2 separate regions of the Homo sapiens genome follow, and region 2 is linked to region 1. Evidence: fine-mapped expression QTL. Tissue or cell type: lung. Region 1 holds a variant in brackets; the other region holds the start of a gene. All regions are shown on one strand. Distances are from middle to middle.

What was found. PIP is the estimated chance that this variant, and not a neighbour inherited with it, causes the effect.
Region 2: it holds the start of UTS2, and the variant in region 1 is fine-mapped to the expression of UTS2 in lung (TOPMed, PIP 0.92).

The regions. Positions count from the first base shown.
Region 1 is chr1:7,948,202-7,950,961 of GRCh38, reverse strand. No RefSeq gene overlaps it. Among named protein-coding and RNA genes, the nearest start is that of TNFRSF9, 8.7 kb to the right of the region's middle. The variant G/A (reference allele first, on the strand shown) is at 1,259.
Region 2 is chr1:7,851,730-7,854,359 of GRCh38, reverse strand. It overlaps UTS2 (urotensin 2), which reads left to right and starts at 1,295. Exons shown (of 4, transcript NM_006786.4): 1 at 1,295-1,459. The coding sequence starts at 1,357. RefSeq lists an enhancer at 1,087-1,775.

The DNA.
Region 1 (2,760 bases):
AGGAAACTTTCTCTATTCCCGTAGCACTTTGCCCTCCTATTATAGAATCTGTACGGCTGTGTGGCCTTAGTTATTTGTGTAACCTCTTCCTTCCACTCAAGGCTGGGAAAACTGTTGGGATGGCACTTTATCTATATATGCCATACAAGACAATAAAACTCACTCCACAATTATTTATGGAGGGCTTGTTGTGTGTTCTCAGGAGTGCTCTGGGGTGCCAGGGATGCAGCAGTGAACAGTGTCCCCTCTCATGGAGCTTATGTTCCATGGGGAAACGACAGACAGTAAACAAAAGCACAAATAAATAGCATGCCAGGTGGTGGTATGTACTATGAAGGAAAACAAAGGAGGGAGAGAAGATGGAGAATAATGGTGGGGGGAGGGTGCTCGTTTAGACACTGGTCAAAGAATGCTGTTTTCTGAGGAGAAAACCCAAATAAGATGAGGGAGTGGCCGGGTGCAGTGGCTCCCACCTGTAATCCCAGCACTTTGAGAGGCCGAGGTGTGCGGATCACCTGAGGTCAGGAGTTCCAGACCAGCCTGGCCAACAAGGTGAAACCCCATCTCTACTAAAAATACAAAAATTAGCCGGGCATGATGGCAGGTGCCTGTAATCCCAGCTACTCGGGAGGCTGAGGTGGGAGAATCGCTTGAACCCAGGAGGCGGAGGTTGCAATGAGCCGAGATGGTGCCACTGCACTCCAGCCTGGGCGACAGAGCAAGACTCCATCTCAAAAATAAATAAAAATTTAAAAATTGAAAACAAGTCAGGCTAGAGGGGAGTGGTAGGATGCAAAACAGGAGAAGTAAATGGGTTAGAAAATGTGCAGATTTGCATTAGACATTCGATAAATGCTTGTTGAGTTAAATTTACTGAATTGATAAGGGACAGAGAGTAATCTAATGATAATAATAATGAAACTTGGAAATTGCTTGAGGTTGAGTGCAACAGACCCTATAGGCATATATATGGAGTAGTTATAACTTACACACAGGGACAGTTGGAACTCTTATTTTGTGTGGTGATACTTATTTAGTATGGTGATACTTAACTGAAGAAAAAAAATCTTATGAAAACTAATGGTTTATCCAACAATCTTCCATTATAATGGAAACACAGAAGAACAGGAGACGGATTTTGTGGAGAACGACTTGTGAGTGGAATTATTTGGTAGAAAATGCTGATCACCATTAAAAAGCTCAGAAGGAAACAAAATCCATCTCCTGGTGTTGCCTTGCTTTTGATTTGTTGAATAAG[G/A]ACACTAGAATGTTAATTGACAGTAGTTGAGATGAATTTGTATATTACTTAATTTTAATAGTACTTTCCTTCCCAAGGGTTAAGGTGAACGCTAGGGACGGGGAGCTAGTACCCCACAGCCAGAAGCTGGCCTTCGGTACAAAGTTATGTTACTTCAGGATAATGTTGCCTCTTGGGGTGATACTGCTTTGATCACAGTTGTCACCTGCACCCCAAAGACTAGTTTTCCCTTTAACGGCATGTAGCAACTATCTCTCGCCATCCGAATTTAAAAATAAAGAGCCCGTGTTTACTTAATGGTTTTTGATTACGTGCTCTTATTTTAAGCTAGTCTAACTTCCTCCAAAAATTGACTACTATGAGGCTGTCAATTCTGCTCTTCATCACATTTCTCAAAGTTTAAATTGATCGTCAGTTTCTTGGTAGTCATTCATGTAGACGAGCTCTGATGTGGTTTCCAACTCAGCTCTTAAACCACGGAATTGACAGTCTTACCCTTGGTTGCTGAGTCAACACATCTTTTTACTAATTCACAGGAATGTGCCATTACAGCTAGCTCCTATGTTAGTCATACCTCTTGGCCAGATGTTAAGGTAGCTTTGGAATGAGACAGCGTCCAATTCCATCCCTGGTGTCTCCATTCCTTAAATGTGGCAGTATGGTGTGGTGGGAGAGCCTGTTCTCGCTCTCTGAGTCCAGCCTGTCTGGATTTAAGCCCAGCTCTGTCCCATGCTAGCTAAGTGATCTTGAACAAATGAGTTACCCCTCATGCCTCATGTTCCCCATCTATAAAACAGGGATCACAGAACCTGTGTACTTCACAGGGTCACTATGAGAATTAAATGAATGAATATAGGTAAAGCTAGAACACTGGCCTGGAGTAAACCCTCAAATGCTGCCCTTAATCCTTGTCTCAGGAATTGAACTCCCTTGGCTTCTGTTTCTTCACATTAGAATAGTAACAATAATTCTTACCTCATGGAGTTCCTGCATTGCAGATGTTATGCTCAACACTTTTTTTGTGTGCATCTGTGAGACAGAGTCTCACTCTGTTGCCCAGGCTAAGGGGCAGTGGTGTGATCTCGGCTCACTGTAACCTCCACTTCCCAGGTTCAAGTGATTCTCCCACCTCAGCCTCCCAAGCAGCTGGGACTACAGGCACACGCCACCATGCCCAGCTAATTTTGGTATTTTTAGTAGAGACGGGATTTCACCATGTTGGCCAGGCTGGTCTCAAATGCCTGACCTCAGGTGATCCGCCCACCTCGGCCTCCTAAAGTGCTGGGATTACAGGGATGAGCCACCGCACCCGGCCTATGCTCAACACTTTAAATATTTTATTTAGCCTCTTCAGAAGGAACAAAATCTGTCTTCTGAGACTAAATAAAACATTTAAAGTGTTTAGCATAACATCTGCAATGCAGGAAGCCACCCATAAGTATTAGCTCTTGTTATTAGAAAACATTTATTTAGTGGTAGTCGCAATCTGTTTAAATTCAGCG
Region 2 (2,630 bases), 97 kb after region 1:
TCTTTTTTTTTTTTTTTAGACAGAGTCTCGCTCTGTCACCCAGGCTGGACTGCTGTGGCGCAATCTTGGCTCACTGCACCCTCCGCCTCCTGGATTCAAGCAATTCTCCTGCCTCAGCCTCCTGAGTAGCTGGGATTACAGGCACGTGCCACCATGCCTGGCTAATTTTTGTATTTTTAGTAGAGACGGGGTTTCACCATGTTGGTCAGGCTGGTCTCAAACTCCTGACCTCGTGATCCATCCGCCTCAGCCTCCCAAAGTGCTGGGATTACAGGCGTGAGCCACTGCACCCGGCCGAGACAGTGTTTCTCTATGTTGCCCAGGCTGGTCTTGAAATCCTAAACTCAAGTGATCCTCCTGCCTCGGCCTCTCAAAGTGCTGAAATTACAGGCATGAGCCACCGTGCCTGGCCTATCTTTGTAACTTTTGTGTTTAGGTCCACAGAAAGTTTTGAGCAAAGAACTACCATGATCTGACTTATGCAGATGCTTCTGGCATCACTCTGCTGTGCTGAGCCTGTGGCAGGCCCGAAGGCAGACTTCAGGACGCCTGTCGGGGACCTTTCCACCCATCCGGGCTTGGACCAGCTTGGGCAGAGTACAGTTGGGAGTAGAGGCCACATTCTGGAAATGTTTATCAGCGAGTTTTCTGGTGTTAAGTCCTTCCTCCCTCCTTGCTGAATAATAATCAACTTTATGAAGTTATTTCCTTTCTCTGAAGATTGAAGTGCTTGCGGCTTCACATGAGGCCACGTGTATGTACAGAATTGTCTTGAGCCTGGAGCAATGTTTGCTATGTATTTTAACTTTTCACTGTTTTAAAGGAAATAGCTGGTTTTACGTTTTAATCCACAGATTGTCATTCTTCAGGGATGGCAGCCCTAAACACAGCATGGCAACTCATCTACTCACTCATGAAAGATTAAAAAATGGAAACCAACGTATTTCATCTTATGCTCTGCGTCACTTCTGCTCGGACTCATAAATCCACGTCTCTTTGCTTTGGCCACTTCAACTCATATCCAAGCCTTCCTTTAATTCATGATTTATTGCTGTAAGTTGCCTCTTTTGCCAGATTTATAAACTCACTGTTCTTTATATAATACCTACTTTGTACACTAGGCAACAAGACAGTTAATTTATTGTCTATGACTTGTTACCTTGAAAAATTACATCAATGCAAAGTGATTGCCTTTTAGCCTCCATAGCCAATAAATTCATTTTTTTTTTTTTTTTGGAGAGGATGATGTCAGGTCATAGGATGATATATATAATCAGTGAGCAGGCAGAATGAGGAGACAGTTGAAAGTTCTCTACAACAGAAGCCAAGAAGGAAGCCGTCTATCTTGTGGCGATCATGTATAAGCTGGCCTCCTGCTGTTTGCTTTTCATAGGATTCTTAAATCCTCTCTTATCTCTTCCTCTCCTTGACTCCAGGGAAATATCCTTTCAACTCTCAGGTAAGATTTTTTTTTTCCCCTTATGTTAGTCTTGAAAGAGCCTTTACTAGTCTTAAATTCAATGTTAGAGATAAGAATGGGATTCCTGCTCGAAGGAGTCTGGAGTCTTGTTCTCTCAATAGTCCCAGCTTTGAAAAGAATATTAAAGGATCCTTACTGCACATTTTAGATGTAGTAATGGATACAGTTTTTTTTCTGTCTCTACAATGTAAAAGGAGAAGAGGATAATTGCTTGTTTCATGTTACCTCTGTACTCTTGTTTTGGGTAATATATACATTTTTCCAATTTTAAAAATTGCATGAAATTTAAAACATCATTACTTTTAGTTTTTACTTTAAATGAACTGGTTGAATGTAGCACTGGTTGTTCTAATTATAGATTATTAATGGATTTATTTGTTTCACCTTTTGTTTAAAAAAATCATCTGATATGTGTTCTACGAAACAAAAATGTTTACTAAAAATTTTTTAGTAAATGACAAACTAGGGAACTAGGGAGTTCATAGACTTCCAAGTATATTGATCGTTTCCTTTTGATTTATGTTAATTCAGTTTAAGTCTAAGTTGAGTTAAAGAAATACACATCAGTCAAGTAGTTTCTCATTTTGCCATTATCTTTCCATTTAGTTAGAGAAATGAGAAAGCTAATGCTTGGGGATTAGGTTCCATCAAAAACTTAACTAGATTTAATCTTATCTTTAATCTTGAGTACTTTTTAAATAGGCTTTTTTTAAATAAAGAAAAAAAACAAACAAACCCTCTTTTAAGCCAAGGATTTTATAGTTTCTCGTCTCTAAAAGTTCATCCCAAGCAGCTTTCTGATGATCGTCAAGCACTGTCATCAGGCACTGCCAACCAACTTCCCGAGTCACCGAGATGATCATTGGCTGTCCTACTAATAGTTAAACACTGGCATTAACTTTACTGAATCTCTGCTATTTACAAAGAAACAGCACACATCTCAAGATGAAATAAGTGAAAATACTCAGCTACTACTGTCATCTTAAAAAATTTTACAAGTAATTTAAGAAACATAGATGAAATGAGTGTAGCATCTCACACAAATTCGAAACAAGTGGCAGCTTATCGCAGAATTTGTTCTCATTTATTTCTCCAGAAATGTGCTTTCCTATCAGCATTTACAGATGATGAAATTTTATAGATTTTCATT